2 separate regions of the Homo sapiens genome follow, and region 2 is linked to region 1. Evidence: fine-mapped expression QTL. A gene starts in region 1. The other region holds a variant in brackets. All regions are shown on one strand. Distances are from middle to middle. Region 1 holds the start of OPA1 (OPA1 mitochondrial dynamin like GTPase). Region 2 overlaps OPA1 (OPA1 mitochondrial dynamin like GTPase).

Region 1 (11,214 bases):
CCCCCTATCCAGTCTTCCTGACCCTCAGTTTCCCTCTTTACAAATTCATCCTTTTCTGTTTCTCCAGGATTATCTTTTTTGAGCCCACTTTATGACACTATAGTCTGCCTCTGTGGGTAGTAACTGTTGCTACCCATTACTTGGTCCTCAGCTTGTACTACCTCACATTAATGTTTACCTTTTATGTATGTCTGTCTTCCTAACCAAACCATGGTTAGTTGAGGGTGGGAACTGTGGTTTACTCTTTTTAAAAAAATATATCCTCAGGCCTGGCACGGTGGCTGATGCCTGTAATCCTAGCACTTTGGAAGGTTGAGGCAGGCAGATTACTTGAGGTCAGGAGTTTGAAACCAGCCTGGCCAAAATGGTGAAACCCCGTCTCTACTAAAATACAAAAACTTAGCCAGGCATGGTGGCATGCACCTGTAATCCCAGCTACTCAGGAGACTGAGGCAGGAGAATCACTTAAACCTGGGAGGTGGAGGTTACAGTGAGCCGAGATTGTGCCACTGCGCTCCAGCCTGGGCGACAAAGTGAGACTCTGTCTCAAAACAAACAAACAAACAAACAAAAACCAAATATATATATATGTGTGTGTGTGTGTGTATATAATTTGTGTGTGTATATATATGTATTTATATCCTCGACTAGGGTTCATAGGAAGTGACTGTAAATGTTTGTTAATAAGGATTATAACATGCTTTTCTGAGGGCTGGGGAGAGTTTGATAATGATGATGGTGCAAACATGTATGACTTCAGCTAATTATTGGCTTCTCCAGGAAACCACAAAGAGTAGTGTTAAGGAACTTGGAGATCTCCCAAGAAGAACTTTGCAAAAGCTTTTATGTATAAATTTAAATATAAAACTTATGAAATCAATTTTAAACATTTCCATTTCCATTAACATCTCTCATTACCTTCCTTTCTGAAAATTTCTGATTCGTTGGATAATTCTGAAAAGGGTCCCTTTTCCTGCTAAGGTAAATATTTAGAGTTTTACCTGGTGAATTGCTCAATTCCCAGCTGAACTGGAAAATTTAGTTTAAAGTAGTAAAATTATTTCATGACTTCTGGATCAGAAAAATATTTTTAACATGTTTTTACAAGTAATTAATACACAAGTTCAGAGTATAAAAGGGTTTACAATAAATGTAAGCCTCCCTCCCACTCATGACCCACTAACTTCAAGTCCTTCCTTGACTCTGCCCTTCACTAGGGCTTATCAACTCAAATATTTTCGTGGGTTAGGCATGTAACATAAATGAGTAATGCAAGTATGTCTGTTGTATAATGTCATATTAAATTGTATTCATATAATTTATTCATATAATTTTACTTGCCTACTTGCATACTTGTGTTCTTTTGCCAAAAAAAAAAAAAAAAAAAGCTCTTTCTCATTGTTTTGGAAATGGCTGACCCTCTCAGTCCTTCATTTTCTCTCACTTTTCATATTGTAATCATCCAGCAGGTTCTTCCTGCTCACTGCACAGACAAAATCATTTCACTGAGACCAGGGCATCGCAGTAGAAAAAGAGTTTAACTGATTCAAGACCAGCCTATGCAGGAGAACTGGAGTTGTCACTCAAATCAATCTTCCTGAAGGCTCTGAGGTTAGAGGTTTTTATGGACAATTTAGTGGGCAAGGGGTAGGGAATGGATGCTGCTGATTGGTTGGGGATGAAATAATAGGAAAACATTCCTTGTGTGCTGAGTCCACCTCTGGGCGGGGCCACAGGATCACTTGAGTCATGAGTCATAAGTCTCGATGGGGTGAGTCTGAAATATACCGCAAAAAAGCAGTCTTAGATTCTATAGTAATGATGTTATCTATAGGAGCAATTGGGGAAGTCATAAGATTTGTGAGTTCTGGCCACATTGATTCCTGAGCAGTAAGGGACTATAGAAACCATACCTACGTCTTAGCACAGTTCAGGCCCCTCTCATGATCCTGTTCTCTTGGCCTTTCTTACAAAGGTGGTTTTTGGTTCCTGAGCAACGAGGGAGTTAGCTTTAGGAAGGGACTATTATAATCCTTTCTTTCAAGTTAAACTATAAACTACATTCCTCCCCAAAGTTCATTTGGCTTAAGTCCAGGAATGAGCAAGGACAGCTTGGAGGTCAGAAGCAAGATGGAGTCAACTATGTCAGGTTCCTCTTGTCATAATTTTGCCAAGGCAGTTTCAATATAAGTAGTGGTTGTTTTTCCTCTTAATTTTTACTAAGAAAAGTAGAAGCACAAGCTTCATGATAAACAGTAATTGATGTGTTCAATTTCAGAAAGATGAAGGAGTGTGAACTACCGGAGAGGACATGAGTGCCTGAAGGATAAAACTACTACTTGGCTCCTGGTTCCGAGACATTTTTTGTATATAAGAATTGAAGGTTGATGTTGTTAGGCATCCTGATATTTTTATGTGATTTTTTAAAATGTGAAATTTGTTGATTTTTATTTGGCAACAAATGTAGCATTTTTTTGCTTGTTTGTTTTTGAGACGGAGTCTCGATCTGTCGCTCAGGCTGGAGTGCAGTGGCACAATCTCAGCTCACTGCAACCTCTGCCTCCTGGGTTCAAGCAATTTTTCTGCCTCAGCCTCCGAGTAGCTGGCTAATTTTTTTATTTTTAGTAGAGACAGGGTTTCACCATATTGGCCAGGCTGGTCTCAAACTCCTGACCTCGTGATCTGCCTTCCTCGGCCTCCCAAAGTGCTGGGATTACAGGCATAAGCCGCCATGCCCAGCCCAAATGTAGTGTTATTTTTAAAACACTGCATAGGCCAACACTGTCTAAACCAAACAAAACAGGTCTGTGGGCTGAATTTGGTCCAATGGTTGCAGTTTATTATACAACAGTTTGCCCTTTTTTCATGGCAACACTATGTATCTATGGGAGATCATTCCTTATCAGGACATACAGACCTAAAGCATAGGTTTTCATGGCTAGTACGGATGTAATTTATGTGTCTAGTTCCTATACATGGACATTTATACTGATTCCAATCTTTTCCCATTTCATACAGTGCAGAAATAAACATCATCATGCATACATCTTTGCATACATGGGAATGATTCCACAGGATAAATGCCTAGAAGTAGAACTGCAAAACAAGGGCTTCATAAAACATATGATAACCATATATAAATGGTGATGGTGGTTAGTTTCTCCTTTTTTTATGGTTAAAGTCTTTTATCCCTAATTTTTCTTTTTTGTTGTTGTTGTTAAAGTCTCTTGGTTTCTCTTATTTTATTTTCTAAAATAACAAGGAAGTAACGATTACAAAGACACTTTTTGTACAACCCTACAATCCCAGGAAGATCTACAGTTTGCACAGGTTGGTACAGCAAATTGCTCTCTGGACCTGCCATTGAAACAGTCACCACAATAAATAAAGAAAATTCTAAGAGTCCTGCATTTGGGAAGTTTACTATCAATGGCTAGGTCTACTCTTGGTGGTATTGTGAGTGCATGGGTCCAGACTTATGATTCTGACAATTAAGGGAAAAGGAATTGTCTTTATGCTCTGTGTATTTGTGTATGTGTGTGGCATGGGTGGGGGGCGGGTAGTGGGGAGGAGGTGAAAGGTCCCTGAAGTAAAGAGGATGCACAGGACCCTTTTATTTTAGTCCCTAAAAATTGGCTTCATAACCGTTCACAGGCCACATCCCTTTTACGGGCCCTGGTTTCCTTACAAAACATAAAAGGTTTGTGTTGGAAGGGGAAAGGAGTATTTAAAGTGATGGAGGAGAGGAGCTCAAGATGGCTGAGATCTGGGCCTGTCCAACATTGAGAAATTTGGGAGGGGAGCCATCAAAGAAGCCTGGGAGCAGCAGTTCCAGGGAAAAAGGAGAATGTGATGGCCAGAGAGCCAAAAGAAAAAGTAGTTGAAGGAGTGCTCAGCACTAGGCATCTGAACTGAATGCTGTGGCAGGCTCACTGGCCACAAACAATAGGGAGCTGGTGGAGGCCTTGACGAGGACCATTTCAACAAACTGGTGGGCTTAAAATCCGGAAGAAACAGTTGAACAAATCATTTTGACGCCTTTTATAAACCACACAAGCTTATTCCAAACCCGTTACTGGCCTAACTGATTTAAGTCCCTTTCCCATCTGATCCTCAGAGATTCTAAGGGACTTAGCCTATCCATGACTCTTCGTCCTGCTTCTCACCTCCCATGATTGCCCTAACGATGTGAAAGTGCTTTCAAACAAAGATGCCCAAGAAAGAAGGTAGGCAAATGTGCAAGCATTAGTTTGTAGTACGCTATTACTGTATTTCACCTTGCACTCTCTAGTTTCCTTCGTGCTCCCTCAATATCCAACTCTTAATAAATTCATGGCTCCCGGTGAGCATTCATCAATTCTCATTCCACGCCTTTAGCCCTTCCCGTTCCCGCCCAACTCTCGCTCCCTCCCCTGGCCAAATCTCTAACCTGCAAGGCTAATTCCGAATTCCAAATCGGAAGCAAGAGGGCGGGGCCCCGTGAGAGGCGATGGATTGCTCCAGTCCGTTCCCGACGCACTGTGCGCATGCGCTGGTCCTCCGCGGACCGTTCGTGCTGCCCGCCTAGAAAGGGTGAAGTGGTTGTTTCCGTGACGGACTGAGTACGGGTGCCTGTCAGGCTCTTGCGGAAGTCCATGCGCCATTGGGAGGGCCTCGGCCGCGGCTCTGTGCCCTTGCTGCTGAGGGCCACTTCCTGGGTCATTCCTGGACCGGGAGCCGGGCTGGGGCTCACACGGGGGCTCCCGCGTGGCCGTCTCGGCGCCTGCGTGACCTCCCCGCCGGCGGGATGTGGCGACTACGTCGGGCCGCTGTGGCCTGGTAAGTGCAGGCTCTAATCTGGCCCCGTTAATTCTGGGGCCTCTTGAGAGTGGGGCTGTCTTATCTCTATCTCCAAAAATGTGCAGGTGACTCTCAGGCCAGGCCGACGGCAGTTGGAGAATTCCCAGATGTTCTTGAGGACCCAGAATGACAGGAGCCCTGGCTGGGCTTACGTTCGGAGCCGGCTTCAATACTGGCCCTTTTCTCTGGCCCTACCCAACCCGAAAATTCTGGACGCCTCTCAATCTTGGCCCGTCTCTATTGTCCTTTTGTCTCTGCCCTTTACACCCTTGTGTCTTCAGTGTTCTGTCTGTCTCTGGTTGCCTCTTTTGCCTTTTTTCTGTCCTCTCCCTGCCAGGTTTGGCTCTGTCCATGAGTCACCTCTCTCCACATTTCTCCTAACTCTCGGTGTCTTCTTTTTCTTCCATTTCCACGCCATGTGTACATTGCATCTTCAGGTACCTGGGCTCTTCTATCGGGGAAAGGGGCGTCCGTCTCTTTCCCTAGCCCGCTGATAGAAGTCAGAACTAGAGCAATGACGCACACGGTGTCAGAGACGGTGATTCGAGATGCCCTTTCAATAGCAGCTTTTTTCTGTGTTTCGGGAGGGAGACTTACTTTTTGATGCAAGGTCGTGAACGTGGCACCACCTTTCTAATCTCAATCATTGTTGCCCTGGGGTGGTTTAATTCTAAATAGAAAATCATAGAAATCTTTTCATTTCTGTGCGTTACTATATGCATTGTAATGAGATTAAATTGGATTTTATAGGAAATTTTGTTCTAGTATCATTAGATACCTTCAAGCTTAGCTCATTGTTGCAGGCATTTGATAGGAAGTAAGATGCATCAAGCAAAATTGGAAAAACGTGGTTTTCCTGAATTAACTTCTAAGCAGTTGTTTTGAATTTTTTCCAGACCTTTTTAAGTGGTATAGATAATTTATCGTGTTTATAAGGAATGGAATGCATTCGTTAGTTTGTTTTTGTTTTGTTTTGAGACGGAGTCTTGCTCTGTCGTCCAGGCTGGAGTGCAGTAGCGCTATCTCGGCTCACTGCAACCTCCGCCTCCCAGGTTCAAGCAATTCTCCTGTCTCCGCCTCCGGAGTAGCTGGAATTACAGGCACGCGCCAGCACGCCTAGCTAATTTTTGTATTTTTAGTAGAGAGGGGGTTTCACCATTTTGGCCAGGCTGGTCTCGAACTCCTGACCTCATGTGATCCACCCTCCTCGACTTCCCAAAGTGCTGGGATTACAACCGTGAGCCACCGCGCCCGGCCCAATTTGTTTTATATAGGTTAACTGGAGTCCAAAATACAGAACTAGATGAGATAACAATAGTTAACAGTGTTAGTCAGTTAGAATTATTGCATAGGTATTTTTAATCTCATGGAATTTTAGTCTTTGAGTAAGTTCACAGCCCTTGGTATTAAAGTAAGTTATTTACAACCCTTGCATTTCTACTTCTCAATATTTAGTGAGGAAACATATCTGATTTTCTTTAAATAAAAAGAGAAAAGACTGCAGAAGATAGCATTCTCTGTTGGAGCAATTAAGATGTATAAGAAGAACTACAAAGACGGAGTTTTAAAACAAACTGATTTATAAGTGGTATTTATTTAATTGGCTGTCATTGGGCTAAATTATTTCTAAAGTTACCATGGATGCCATTGAGTCATGGCTTAAAAATGTCTCCTGGTGATGGCACAGTTTAGCTACCTAAAGAAGTAGAGATGTGGGAAGCCAGAAGCCCCAAGCTCTGCAGTTTTTCTTTTGCTATAGTTCCTTTGCATGTTGTGAAAGAATACAGTTAAATTCCTGCTCCCTAACAGATGAGAGCATAAGCATTTCTTTGGGCATACATATGTAAATACATGCTCATGGACATGTGAAAAGATCAATACTAACATTTGGGTGCAATAAATAATTGTGTAAAATTATTTTTAAAAGAATTACATATTAGGAAATGATATATTGATTAAAAGTGATAGTCAATGAACAAGAGAGTAGATTTCTGGGGGAAACCTATTTTGCATCATACTTGATTTTTAGTTTTGACTGAATATTGAAGTCTATATTCAAAATTCTTTTCCTTTAGAACTGTAAAGGCATTGCTGCATTTTCTTCTAATGTAATTGTTTATTGCTGCTGAGAATTCTTATGACAATCTGATTTTTTCATCTTCATGATTATCTTGTTTTTCCCTTCATGGAATCTGTTAGGGTCTTGACTTTATCCTTTATCCTAAATTTCTCAAGGCTTGGACCAGGTGTGGGTTTGGTTTTGTTTTCTTTTGCTACTCATTTGACTTGGCACACTCAGTGGGCCTTTCCCTTTATCTTTCTTCATTTCTGAGACGTTTTTCTCTCTTATTTTTTATTATCTTCCTTTCATTTTTCCTGTCCTTTTTCTTTCTAGACATCTCTTAGGAGGATAGTGGTCCTCTTAGATTGATATGTTATGTCCGTGATTTCCAAAGTAAGATTTGTACTCGTCGTCTGTTAAAAGGAAAAGCATACATATACCCTATGTATATATGCACACTTTTTTATTTTTAAATTATATATGTATCTGTACTAATTATTTACATTGTAAGTCAACCCTAACATAATCTTAAAGGATAAGATACAAAACATACTGCATCTAGAAGCTTCAGTACTTTCTTCCTGAATCCCAGTAGATCCTTTTGTTCATCCCACGGGATGCATTCCGCCCCCATCCTCCCACTCCCTTTGGATACCACATTACCACAGCTCTGCATCACTTAACTTTCCTCTTATGTTTTTCACCTTTTTTTTTTTTTTTTTTTTGCATTTTATGTCCTGGGGAATTTCCTTAATTCATTTCATGGTTTTACTGTTGATTTTTTTAATATTGGCCATCGCAACTTTTCTTTTCTTTTCCTTTCCTTTCCTTTCCTTTCCTTTCCTTTTCTTTTCTTTTCTTTTCTTTTCTTAATTTTCTTTTCTTTTCTTTTCTTTTCTGTTCTTTTCTTTTCTTTTCTTTTCTTTTCTTTCACACAGGATCTTGGCGTGTTGTCCAGGCTGGCCTCGAACTCCTGGGCTCAGGTAATCCTCTCACCTTGGCCTCCCAAAATGCCAGGATTACAGGCGTGCGCCACTGCATTTGGCGGCAACTTAATTTTTTTATTTTTATTTTTCCTTTTAGAGGACACCTAGCACTGAGCATTGCAACTTTTCATTTCCATGAACTTTTAAGAAAACTCTTAAAGACATGTTTAATTCTGTACACTTTCTATTGTTCTTTGATTGCTGTTTTTGAATAACAACAAGGAGTACGCCTTAGCATTTTGATGGTATCCTCTTAATAGTCGCAATAATAGTCCCCTTGGCGCTCTGTATACTCTCAAGTCTTAAATGTTTTGTATGCAGCTGTACGTTGACAGTTGAATGGTCTCGCTCCAAGTGGATCAGCAAGAACATAAAGAATCATTTAACTGGTACAGGCTGCGGCTTGTGAATTCCCTATTAACACCAAAGAAGACGTGTGAGACTCCGTACTGAAACTAAAGACGACTTGTGAGTTCCACACTGAGATCAAATAAGTCTTTATGATGGTGACAGAGAGTGGTGTCAACGCCTAAAGTTTTGGTTAATCTCTCTAAATTGAGGGGCTGACCAAAAGGGGGAACTTAACTGTATTAGACATAATTTTGAGAAACATGGGTATGTGGATGGTAATGGAGGAAATGGGTGTAGATGAGATTGCCTAGGGAGAGTGAGAAGTAGGTTAGGTCTAAGCCTTGATGAGTTCCCAACATTTCCAAGGGTAGTTGAGGATACTGAAAATGAGTGGCCAGTGAGATAGAGGTAAAGCTAGAGACTGCCCAGGGGAGAGGAATTTTCAACAATGAGGAGGTGTCAACATTGTCAGGTATTGCTGAGAGGTCAGATAAAACCAGAATTGAGCAAAATGGCCATTGGAAGCCTATGGTGCCCTCCGTAAGAGCTGTTTCGCTGAAGTGATAGAAACGGAAATCAGGCTGGGCACAGTGGCTCACTCCTGTAATCCCAGCACTTTGGGAGGCCGAGGTGGGCGGATCACCTGAGGTTAGGAGTTCGAGACCAGCCTGGCCAACATGGTGAAACCCTGTCTCTACTAAAAATACAAAAAGTAGCCAGGTGTGGTGGCAGGTCCCTGTAATCCCAGCTACTCAGGAGGCTGAGGCAGGAGAATCGCTTGAGCCCCAGAGGCGGAGGTTGCAGTGAGCAGAGATCGAGCCACTGCACTCCAACCTGGGTGACAGAGCAAGACTCCGTTTCAAAAAAAAAAAAAAAAAAAGAAATGGAAATCAGGATGGTTTGGCTTTTATTTTAATAAAATAGCTAGAGCAGGGAAATGGGGTACTTTTTTTCCCCCTTTTAAGATGAGACATAGCCAGGTGCAGTGGCTTACACCTGTAATCCCAACACTTTGAAAGGGAGGGTCGCTTGAGCTCAGGAGTTTGAGACCAGCCTAGGCAACATAGCAAGACCTTGTCTCTACTAAAATTCAAAAAAAATTAACTGGGCATGCTGGCACACACCTCTAGTCCCAGCTATTTATGAAGCTGAGGCAGGAGGATCACACTTGAGCCCAGATACGTGGGGCTGCAGTGAGCCCTGATAATGCCATTGCACTCCACGTTGGGCAACAGAGCAAGACTTCGTCTCAAAAATAAATAAATACCCTGTCTCAAAAATAAAAAATAAATATGGGAGGAGAGATTTGACTTAGATTCCTCAAAGGGCAGGAGGAAAGAGAATTCCAAACAGTGATTCACCTTTAATGGGAGAAAGATCGCTTAATTTTACATGAGGAAGAAGAGGATTGGTGGAGATACAGTAGGTGAACAGTTTTTGTATGAGGAAGTTGAACATGTGTCATTCTAATAGCTTCCATTCTCTGTGAAGTAGAGGGCAAGGTCATCTACTGAGAGTTGGGGAGGTCAAGAGAGATAAGGGGAGATTAGAAGAGCTCTTCTAGCAGAGAGTGGAAGAATGAATTGCTAAGAGAGATGAAGTAGGATTGTTAAGTAGTTTTGAGGGCCCTGTTGAGATGTGCTTCCAGTTGGGTGTGATTTTCTCCAGTAGTGCTTTATTTCCCTGGGTACAGGCAGAGAGAAAAACAATAAGGCTCATGTAGGGTTTGTATTTTGTTGGACAAGTCAAACAGAAAAGTCAGAGGACGAGGGAGTTTAGAATGTTTGCAAAAGAGTTATTGAAACGATGAACCGCATAATCTAAGGTGGTAAGTGGGTGAATAGATAAGGAGGATGTGAATAGGTAAGGAGAAGAAAGAAATATCAGATTATTGATTATTGATGGCGACTCTCTAATACAGCTATTATGCCATTTTAACCGATTAAGAAACTAAGGCTTTAGAAAATTCATAATTTGCCCTAACTGCACAGCTAGTAAGCAGTGGAAATGTGATTGGAACCAGAGTTCTTCTGACTCAATAGACTAAATGGATGTAAGGATGTAGTTGAAAGAAGGGTGAGCTAAACGTTGTGGAACCATGAGCTCTTTCTCTGGTTGATATCCCTCTCTGTAAGTGATAACATGGGTCACGCTGGATAAAACCTTGTGGTGATTGGTGACTTTCCTTTGTCCTTCCTCCTGTGCCTAGTCTGGCGAGTATCTGCCTTTCCCTTTCCTTTCTCATTGCTGCCACCTAACTTTAGGCTCTTCCCCTTACATCTGGGTAACTGAAATAAGATCACCTTTTTGTTCCCCTTCTGATTTACTTTGACCTAACATTATCTTTACTATTTTCTTTAAATTAATGTTTCATTAGTCTTATTCTACTCAGGAACTCTGTAGTTCCCCATTGCCTACGAAAAAAAGTTAAGCCTCAGCCTTATATTCAGTGACTCTTCAATTGGATATTCAGTCCAGTTTTACTCCTCCTATGAGCCTTCTATGCCAGCTCCTTGGGTCTCTTGCCCTTTCATTGTCTCAGCTCTGCACCCTTCTTTCTCTTTTTTATTCTTTTTTTTTTTTGTACTTTTTTGGTTTTCTTTTTGGTTTCTTTTTTTGTTTTATTTATTAAACCTCCATCACACTTCATCCTATGGAGTTTTGAACCACAGCAAGGTGCAGTATCATCCTGGGGCTCTGGAGGAAGTGGCAGGGAGTCCAAAATGTCACCTTAGCTTCTTATCTGGGGCCACATGTATTTCTGCATCTGCTGCTTCCCACACTCTTGCCCACAAGTGTCGCTTGTGGAAATAATTTGAGATTTACTGTCTGGCTGACCCTAGTTTCAATCTCTTTTCCACCATTTGCTAATCATTCTACCTTGGGCAAAACATAGAATTAAAAGAAAACTTCAGACAAGTTAAATTTGATGGAGTTTAATTGAGCAAAGAAAAAAAATGATCCACAAATTGGGCA
Region 2 (11,214 bases), 100 kb after region 1:
TTAAAATTCTCTACATAATTGTACATGTACTTAATACATGCTTTTTTCCATGTTAAGAGTCCAGAGTTTTTGTTAGATCCTCAAAGGGGTCAGTCAGTCTCTCCTCCCACTTCCAAAAAATGTCTGAGACCTACTACTATAATCCATCTGGACTTTATTTGGGTAAAAGGTGGTATGGTGAGACTCATATTTTTCTTTTTCCCGCAAATAGTTAAGTATACCAACCATTTAGTAAATAATTACCTCCTGATTTGTGATACCTTTGAAAAATAAATGTTTTTCTTTATTTTTATCTCCACAGAGAAAGTTAGAGAAATTCAAGAAAAACTTGATGCTTTCATTGAAGCTCTTCATCAGGAGAAATAAATTAAGTGAGTAAAAATTCTCTAACTGTATTGGTGCTGACTAAATACAAAATTACACTTTTCTTAATAGTTTATCATTCTGCTTCATTTACATCCTGCTTGTCACTTATGCTGTAATTTCAATGGCATGAATCTCTGAAACTAGCTTCCGAATTTCATTTGTATAACGTTGCTTTGAATAACTTGATTGCCTTCTGGCTGAATTAAGAATATCCTCTAGAACTCATTTTGAATAGAACAAAGGTGAACACAGAGCTAAGATATTGTATAATATGCAGGTGACTCATTTTCTAGGTGTAAAGAATTGAGCTGTAGTTGACATTACTTTATTCTTCTTGCCTATAGTCTATCAATAATGATGTGTATGTTAAATATTTAACTTAGAAAGTTTTCTGTTTGACTTAATTAAAATTTTAATAATTGTTCTTAATCCTTATCTCTTTTGTTTAAAAACATTTAGATAAGTGTTTTTCCTACTTAATTTATATAGCCTTAGAATTTAGTACTCCTTGAATTTACTTTCTTGTCTGATTCTGCTTTCTGGCATTAGAGGCATGTTCCTAATAAAATACATATTTAAGGACTTTTCCTTAGTAGCATAATCAATTAATTGTTGCTGAAGAATTTTAATCAGTAAGTCACTTGCTTGAGAGGAGACCTCGCTCTGCCACCCAGGCTGGAGTGCAGTAGTGCAATCACTGTTCACTGCAGCCTCAACCTCCTGGGCTCAAGCAGTCCTCCCACATCAGCCTCTCAAGGAACTGGGGCCACAGGCTCATGCCACCATGCCCAGCTAATTTCTTTAATTTTTTGTAGAGATGGGGTTTCACCCCGTTGTCCAGGCTGGCATTTGCTTTTATAAAAGAAGTTGAGGAAAGAAAAATACTGTAGTTAAGTCATTATCACTTCAAATATTTTGTCACTTTTGTCTGTGACCCTTACCCTACAGACAGCCTGCAGCAGGCTCAGAACTAGAAGGAGTAGAAATGTAAAAGGTTCCCTCCCTGGCTACGCTCGGTTCAGGTCAGTTCAGAAAAGGCTCTTAAACCAAACTACCTACTTTCCTGTCAGGAAAATGTATTTGAGAAAGCAGGGTGGAAAGGGAAGTACAACTTCCATGGTACATCATTCGGAACAGTGTGCCAGCAAAGGAGGAGAGAAACAAGACCTAGAAAACTTGAAAATAAAGCTTTGTAACTTTATTTCATTTGTTTCTTTAGTAAGTTAAGACAGGCCAGTGCGGTGGCTCACTCCTGTAATCCCAGCACTTAGGGAGACCAAGGCGGGCGGATCACTTGAGGTCAGGAGTTGGAGACCAGCCTGACCAACATGGTGAAACCCCGTCTCTAATAAAAATACAAAAATTGCCCAGGTGTGCTGGCACATGCCTGTAATCCCAGCTACTCGGGAGCCTGAGTCAGGAGAATCACTTGAACCTGGAAGGTAGTGGTTGCAGTAAGCAGAAATCGTGCCACTGCACTCCAGCCTGGGCGACAGAGCGAGACTCTTGTCTCAAAAAAAAAGTGAAGACAGATATATGGAAATATACAAAAATACATAATCATCTTTAACACAAGCTAAACATAATTTTTGTGTTTTATAAGTGTCCGTGTTCATAAATGTTTTCTATGTCTTTTGTGTATGAATATTTTATTTTAAAACCATTAAGTGTTACAATATCACCCTAATCATGGTGGTTACCGTGAATACTTACTATTAGAAATAAACATCTGTAGCGCCTCCTTGATCTCCCCTTTAGCACCAGAGCTTACATCATAGTTCTATTTACTGACCTGTGTGTGCTTTGCGGGGAAAAATTGATGAAAGCCCCGGAAGCCCCGTTAAAAAGACAAGCTGTATTTCTGTTTTTTTAACAAAATGAGGAAGCTGAAAGCCAGCCAGTGTTTTACATAATGGTGTCTCTCCCCTCAGCTGATCAGTGTGACATCCAGAGTTGCTGTTGCTGCTACCTGTCTAGTCTCTAAGACCCTTTTCAACCCTTGTGACTTAAGACTCTGTGAACTTTTACAAAGTATCTTGTGATCTGGACAGATGATCTGTTTTGTACCCTGCAGATGCATTTAAAAGAATAAATCTGGCAGAATGGTAACCTTGCTTCATTCTGACCATTTTATCAAAGTTACCAAGGACCCTAAGGAATACTTTCTCAAGTATAGTTTTAACACATAGGATTCCTAATTAATTGTTATTCTAATATTTGCTGAAGGTGTTTATATGCTATACAGTCATACACAGATTCTTCTTCAATTAATTTTAGTATATGCTTTTAACTTATGTTTGATAAAAAAATTATGCCAATATTGTTAGGTCGGTGATAGACTATATAAGTTTAGTAAAACTAGCAAAGGTAAGCGGTTAGGCTTCAACATTGTTGTGATCATGCAGTCATCAACTTTGTTTAGAAATTTTGCATTTATCTCCCCTGACCTCAGTTTGTTAAATGGGTTTATTTTTACAGAATCGTACTCATAATCAGCTCTGCATACATCTGAAGAACAAAAACATCAACGTCTTTTGTCCAGCCTCTTTTTCTTCTGCTGTTCCACCTTTCTAAACATACAATAAAGTCATGGGATAAAAATAATCGATGTATGTTACGGGCGCTTTAACCATCAGCTGCCTCTCGAATGGAAGAACAGTGGTAATGGATTAACATCCTATTTTGTTGTACTAAAGTGACAAATCGGAATAATATAATTGGTATGGCCATTAGGTTCAGTCCTTGAAGATAAGAAACTTGTTCTCTGTTTGTTGTCTTATTTGTGGTGGCACTCGTTTAATGGATTAACTGAGGTTGCTCAATGTTCAGTTTCTTTTCCAGAAATACAATGCTAGGTGTTTTGAAATAAAACTTATATAGCAATTGTTTAAAGTTATCAATTGTATATAAAATCACAGTAGCCTGCTAAATCATTGTATGTGTCTGTAGTATTCTATTCCCAGAAACTATTTGACCATGATAATTCAGTTTATATTCACCACATGAAAGAAAAATGGGTAACAGAAGAACCCTTAAAACAGGTTAATTTGGATTGTAACGTTCAGTGAAAGAAATTTCAACCCTTCATAGCCAGCGAAGAAATTTGCCTTGGAAGCCAAGTCAGTACCAGCTTACCTATTTGATTCAGTTGCTGTTTTCTCACTCTCTATATCCATTTGAAATTGATTTATTTTAGATGTTGTATACTTACGTTAGGCTTTCTGTTAATAGTGGTTTTTCTCCTGTTGACAGAGCCACCGGATTATGACACAGGATGAGGAAGATTAAGGATAATCAATTGACTAATTTCATTTAGAATATTATCAAACATTTCAACTAGGTATCAGAAAAAGGCTTTCTTTCATAAGACTATTTTAAATAGAAATTATTTCAACAATTAAAGTAATGTTGACCATCCCCCTCTCAGCTGAATAAAGAAAAATTTAGTTCAATTTATTGCAATTTAATTACAATACTACCTTCACAACATTTTCATGTGTTTTAAATAAATATTTTTTAATTGGCTAAAGGACATTCAAGCAAAGAAATGCTTTCTTTACTTAAAATGTCTATCTCATTTGCTGCCTTTTCACTAAGCCTTTACTTTGTTAATAAAAGTGTCCATTGTGTGATGTTTTTGATTTTACAGTTTGCTAAATCTTATTTTCTTGGAGTTGCTTTTTGGTAACAGCCCCATTGCTACTCCCCATTTTATTGTTTTACATCAATGCATGCTTCGTTGTGATCCCTCAAGATGTAACACTTGGTATGCTCGGTTGAGGATATGAAAAAATACTTCCGAAACCAGGAATTCAATGTATGTTTGTTTTATACTGTTTGATAAGAAAAGTAGGTCCAGCCTTAAGCAGCACAGATGCGCTGGTAGATGCATAGTCAGGAACTTTTTTTATTTCTTTTAGGTCTAGGGACAGGAGTGAATAGAAAGGGAGGAGAGCTCTATTATGTTCTATACACAGATTAGGAGATGACCTTACTGGGTACACCCCTCTAACCAGTGCTTACAGGTTAATGCATGTTAATGAATATTTTTGCAGTTGTAAAGCATAACAATTACAACTACACATCTATTTCTAAAGAATAAAACAGGACCATATTTATTTACTTCTGTCAACTATAGAAAGAAAGACCTTCAGCTGTATTTCCACAGATTTCTCCCAAGGAAAAGGCTAATATTAGTCACTACTGTTATCACATCCCTTTGTATAAGTTTTAAAAAGAGATGGAGGGAGATCTTCATTTCTTTGAGGAGATCAGTATTGTAACGTATGTGAATAGATGATAACAATTAATATTACTAAAAGTCCCACATGAGAGTCCTGACGCCCTCTCCATGCCCCACAGTAATGTGGCTTCTTTCATGGGTTTTTTTTTCTTCTTTTTAGCTGATCTCATCCTAAGCATGCTTTATTTTTCCTTGAAAGCTAGGTATTTATCAACTGCAGATGTTATTGAAAGAAAATAAAATTCAGTCTCAAGAGTAAACCCTGTGTCTTGTGTCTGTAGTTCAAAAGTCAGAAATGATTCTAATTTAAACAAAAAGATACTAAATATACAGAAGTTAAATTCGAACTAGCCACAGAATCATTTGTTTTTATGTCAGAATTTGCAAAGAGTGGAGTGGACAAAGCTCTGTATGGAAGACTGAACAACTGTAAATAGATGATATCCAAACTTAATTTGGCTAGGACTTCAATTTTAAAAATCAGTGTACCTAGGCAGTGCACAGCACGAAATAAGTGGCCCTTGCAGCTTCCCCGTTTAACCCACTGTGCTATAGTTGCGGGTGGAACAGTCAACCTTTCTAGTAGTTTATGATATTGCCCTCTTTGTATTCCCATTTTCTACAGTTTTTTCCGCAGACTTCTTTCTGCAAATTATTCAGCCTCCAAATGCAAATGAATGATATAAAAATAAGTAGGGAACATGGCAGAGAGTGGTGCTTCCCAGCCTCACAATGTGGGAATTTGACATAGGATGAGAGTCAGAGTATAGGTTTAAAAGATAAAATCTTTAGTTAATAATTTTGTATTTATTTATTCTAGATGTATGTATCTGAGGAAAGAAATCTGGTATTTTTGCTTTCCAATAAAGGGGATCAAAGTAATGGTTTTTCTCTCAGTTCTCTAAGCTGGTCTATGTTATAGCTCTAGCAGTATGGAAATGTGCTTTAAAATATGCTTACCTTTTGAATGATCATGGCTATATGTTGTTGAGATATTTGAAACTTACCTTGTTTTCACTTGTGCACTGTGAATGAACTTTGTATTATTTTTTTAAAACCTTCACATTACGTGTAGATATTATTGCAACTTATATTTTGCCTG[A/T]GCTTGATCAAAGGTCATTTGTGTAGATGAGTAATTAAAAAATATTTAAATCACATTATAATTCTATTATTGGAGAGCATCTTTTAAATTTTTTTCTGTTTTAACGAGGGAAAGAGAAACCTGTATACCTAGGGTCATTATTTGACCCCATAGTATAACCAGATTCATGGTCTAACAAGCTCTCAGTGTGGCTTTTCTCTGAATGCTTGAATTTCACATGCCTTGCATTTCACAGTTGTACTCCATGGTCAACCGGTGCTTTTTTTCACATCGTGGTACTTGTCAAAACATTTTGTTATTTTCCTTGGTAAAATATATAAAAAAGGTTTTCTAATTTCACTTTGCTGCCAAGGCTGTCATTTTCATTAATGCTGCCAACATGTTCATATGAGGCTTACTAAGAAGTTATAACTAAGCTTTAGAACTGGAAGAGACTTTAATTTCATCTACCATCTGATTATAAACTCCTGTTACTCACTTTGTTATTCCTCCAGAACTTTGCTCATAAATGATACCTACTAATTGTCGATCATTGGATATGTCAAGTTAGGTAGCGTATAGGTGTGCCTTCTTAATTCCTTCAGAAGATGCAGAGGCAAGAACATGTTTCAATCGTGTTAGCATTGGTTTTCTTTATCAGTGCTAACAGACTCAGTGTGAGGCCCCATACTTTATTTTAAACTAGGTTTTCATCCTTGTGTAATTCAAGTTCAGAATCTTCGTGTATCAAAACGTTTGAAGAATTTAGTTACTGAAGATTTAATAGAGCAATTAATTTTTTTAGCATGTCTGATTGAAGAATTAATATATTTATCAAATTGAAATAGCTACCATGTGCCTATAGATAATACAGATGTATTTAATTATGAAGTACGTCTTAAAATAACCACATACCCGATTTGTGATAACTAAAACAATCATGTCCTGCACATATTAGACCCAGTTAATAAGTGTAGAAAACTTAAGTGTTCAAACAAATACTACAAAAATTGTTAAAGGTTCAAAACCAGGAGACAGTATCAGGAAGGCTTAAATATGGGTGATCTCTAGCTGGAAGAAGACAGCTTCTAAAACTAAGGGTAGGAAAAACCTATATCATAAGGCATTTGTTTAAATTTATATCCTAAAATGACAGAATTGAGCTTGAAAATTGAGAGTATGTATGTGATTCCTCTCCAAGACTTCTCGTGAGTTACGTACATATTCTGCAGAAGCCGCGTTAAGGTGCATTTGTGGCCAAGTCACTGACAAGGAGGTAAATACTACTTATAAATGCTGTTAAATGAAAATCTTTTTTTTTTTTTTTTTTTTTTTTTGAGTTGGAGTCTTGCTCTGTCGCCCAGGCTGGAGTGCAGTGGCGCGATCTCAGCTCACTGCAAGCTCCACCTCCCGGGTTCAGGCCATTCTCCTGCCTCAGCCTCCCGAGTAGCTGGGACTACAGGCACCTGCCACCATGCCTGGCTAATTTTTTGTATTTTTAGTAGAGATGGGGTTTCCCCATGTTAGCCAGGATGGTCTCAATCTCCTGACCTCGTGATCCACCCGCCTCGGCCTCCCAAAGTGCTGGGATCACAGGCGTGATTGTTACTCTTTGTGATAAAAAATTCTTGTTCCTGCTGTTAGTACTTTTAATTCATTAACCCAGGTGTAAACTGTTCCTTTCCAAGTATTTGGGAAATTCAGAGATCTGTTTTTGAAAAAACTAGGCCAGAGGCACCCCTGAAGATCTAGTCACAGTGCAGTGATACTGCCAGCAGCCCCCCACAGAGATATGTCTTACGGCTGTATTAAGAATATAAGTTACACTCTTTAATGTTCAGAACAGAATACTCATTCTGCTGCTTACTCTTGTAGTTATTAAATCACAGAGCAACAATACGGAAGTTAGAATTTTATCCATTTGTCAGAAAATATGCTCATGGTTTATGTGACCTAATACTTTCCAAAAGCTCTTGAGACCTCTGATATTTGTGAGAGAATATGTAGGGAATAGGTTAACCTCCTTTTTTTGCTTTGGTAAACTTCATCTGAGATTAGGCCAAATCATCAGAAAGCAATACTGCCTGGGCTGCTACTTACCTACCTCTTTGATATTACGTCCTTGGCTTCACAGGCAAGACCTTATGACACATCTATTTGAAGAAAATACACAGTCTCTTTTGCAGAAGTCTAACCTAATGACATGTCTTGATTATCACTGAAATTCATTAAGGATTACTAGATAGTACCAGCGGTTTCCCCTCCAGACACATGTATGTACTGCTCTCCTTGTGACAATGAGAACTCAAGACTTTACCATTTTCTTTGCTTCAGCTGCCAGGAAATGCTGAAATTAATTTCCCTCTCAACTGAAGGAATGAACCTAACCATTTTTCTGCTCCTTTAGTTTGTGTTCTATTTTTGTTATTAATCTCTCTTTCCATACATCTTAACGCAGAAACAGCTTTCTGTGTTAGTTTGCGTCACTAAGAAAATACAATGCTTACTTATTTCTCATTTTAAGAAATATATTTGTCTAGAGGGTTTAAGAATTCCCACATGTGCCATAATGCTCCAGGTGGTACACAGCCACTCCCCTTGCATACCTAATGTATATAATTTTTTTCTACAATCAATTCATATATATATATAGTAAAAAAATCAGAAATCACCTCAAGGACACAGTACACACCCAGTGACAATAACATGCCTGCCTCCCCGCTGCCGGGAGCAACACCACAGTAGCAGGAGGTGCCTGATGTGTGTTGAGAGGAAGGATGCAGAGAGATATGTGTAAGTTTGCAGCCATTCCAGAAATATTAACACATCCTAACTAAGGGCCTATTATAAAGGTCTGAGCAGGACTCAGAACACTACAAAGTAGACTAAAACTGGCCAGCAGCATTTTGGGATCCATGGAGAAACTCCACTGAATTCTTTTTGAACGGTCAATATCCTATCTTGCCAAGGATTGGTCCCATGAAACATTTTTGGTTTCCCTTTAAAATTTTGAAACTAAGAAGAAAACTTGAATCCAGAGCAAAGAAACCAGTATACCTTGTGTTTTGCACCCATTATCACAGAAAGTATTGTTTCCATTTTATAGATGAGAAAATCAGCTCAGGTTTTGCACAAGGTTATTCTAGTTGAATAGCAAAGTTGAAACTTGAAAACAAGTATGATTACAAGCCTATGCACTTTCCAAAATATGCTCCCTTTCAGAAATACTTTTCGGAAAGTAAACATTTATGATATTAGGAGCACATTAGGGCACATGATATACCTAGAAAGTACAAAATGACCTAACTCATAACAAAAATGGCCTATGATAGTCTTTACTAATTACATGAGGCTATTGTTGCATTGCAAGAATGGAACTATCAGCAGAGATGTGTGGCTGCCTGTGAGACCTTAGTGGACAAGAAGATGAGATTCAGTAGGTTCTAATTTCATGTTAACGCCAGGCCTTAAGTTTTAGGTGTAAAAAACAAGTGCTTTGCAATTCTCAACATGTTAATAATGTTAATTCTCTCATTTTATCCTGTGCAGATTCTGTCAATCTTTTTTAGTTAGTCCAAGTATTAAAATATGGAATTGCTCTTTCCTCAGTTTTTAAAAACTTGATTGAATATTTTCTTTTTCCAAATTACTATTTTTTTTTTTTTTGAGACAGGGTTTCTCACTGTCCCTCATGCTGGAGTGCAGTGACACAATCACAGCTCACTGCAACCTCGACCTCCTGGGCTCAAGTGATCCTCCCACCTCAACCTCTCGAGTAGGTGGGACTACAGGGACACACCACCATGCCTAGCTAATCTTTTTTTTAATTTTTAGTAGAGATGAGATCTCAATATGTTGCCAAACTGATCTCAAAATTCTGAGTTCAGGCAAGCCTCCTACCTCAGCCTTCCGGAGTGCTGGGATTATAAGCGTGAGCCACCTAGCCTGGCCCAAATTACTACTTTTGAGTGTCTTTCTGCGCCCCACCCCCAATAAAATTATTTTGAAGGAAAAGCTATTAGCAGAATTCTTTAAAATTTCTACTAAACTTATATTCCAGGTATCTCATGTACATTCTTTAATTTTCTTGCCTTGAGATATGTCTGGTTTCCCAAGACTATTAGGACCGAAAGACAGATTTTCATGCCAAAATCTGTATGAGTTATCTTTACCCGTATCAGAACATCTCTAATATGAATGCTTAATTGAACATGCCTGCCATTTGCTGCCTCTGCCATTTCATAGGCTGTTGGTACCATCACAAAGCCACTCCCACTTTCATACATTCAGATTTCTCAAAACATCTGAGACATTCACATTCTTGCTAATTATACTCATTGCTCTGGTCATAGCTGAATCAAGATTCTGAGAGTGTAATTTTGTTCGCGTCAAAAGCATTGTTTTCTTATCCTGTTGGTGGAGTGAGGCATTTGGACCTGGATGCTCTCCCCATTGGGCGCCCCCCGTTGGTACGTTTCGCCAGCTGTGTACTCTATGATTGGCTGGCCTTTTGATGTGCAGGTACTACAAGTTGGTCACAAACTTGTGTACAATGGGCCTGTTCTGGTTCATGTGAAAATCAACATCCTTTTTTGTGTTACCGGGTGACAGGATGCTACAATACTATTAGCATTTGCAAAGAGTGTGCTCTGTCCAAGGGTGTAACCACAGGTCGTGTGCTGCTCACTTTGTGTTTCTCTATTATGTGAGAGACACAAAGAAGCTGAGGGCTCGCAAAGGCCTGTCAAATCTTGTAATGTGGCGCTCGACCCCCAAACTCCACTTGGCCTCCAAGCATCTCTTGTTCCCTGTCCCACCCCTTTCTCTGAATGGGCTCTGAGGTAGGTAAATGAATTCAGGGGCCTGGTAGGCGGGGGATTCCTTTCTGGCCTCATTCCTGTACCATTTGTTTGCAGGCTTGTAGGGGGAGAGGAGGACATTTTGGAATCCTTTGTGTCAAATCATTTTCTTGCAGGTTGGGGAGTTAATGGTAACTTTGTCTGAAGCCAGCCAAGCAGAAAGCCTCCACGGATGAGGCGTGGTATGCTCAACCTCCTCAAAAACCACAAGATGAGAATGTGGAAATGGGGAACTTTCTAGAGCAGATGAGTATGGGACAAGTCTGCATGTGCCACATCTAATGGGAAGCTTAAACCTTCCTGTGTATTTAGGCATACAGTAGTTCATTTTAAGAGGGTTTTCCTCTTTCTGAATCATCATGGTGTTTTTATTGATACCTGTAGTTTGGATAATCTTTTGTGCAGCCAATATTTATATATTCTGCACCATTTTGAAAGCCTTCTACTACCTGGTTACCTGTATGTATCGTGTGATTTCAAGAAGTTTTACCATGTTTTTGTCCTCGGATTTACTTTGTTTACCTAAAAAATGAACTATTGTTTTAGAACAGTGATAACTCTTACTTTGAAAAAAAAAAAAAAAGAGAGAGACCCAGAGAAAAGCAATTTGCTCAATTAATGTTACAGCTAGAAACTGTTCCCTGATTCCTAGGCAAGTACTATGT

The links. PIP is the estimated chance that this variant, and not a neighbour inherited with it, causes the effect.
Region 2: its variant is fine-mapped to the expression of OPA1 in whole blood (TOPMed, PIP above 0.99).

What each region holds. Positions count from the first base shown.
Region 1 is chr3:193,588,592-193,599,805 of GRCh38, forward strand. OPA1 (OPA1 mitochondrial dynamin like GTPase) reads left to right here and starts at 4,617. Exons shown (of 31, transcript NM_130837.3): 1 at 4,617-4,818. The coding sequence starts at 4,787. It also overlaps a transcript of ATP13A4 not described here. RefSeq lists enhancers at 4,279-4,930, 4,326-4,395, 4,446-4,495, 4,931-5,582, 5,096-5,175 and a silencer at 4,716-4,865.
Region 2 is chr3:193,691,762-193,702,975 of GRCh38, forward strand. It overlaps OPA1 (OPA1 mitochondrial dynamin like GTPase), which reads left to right. Exons shown (of 31, transcript NM_130837.3): 30 at 302-371; 31 at 2,845-6,050. The coding sequence ends at 366. Among named protein-coding and RNA genes, the nearest start is that of OPA1-AS1, 70 kb to the left of the region's middle. RefSeq lists an enhancer at 10,371-10,430. The variant A/T (reference allele first, on the strand shown) is at 5,712.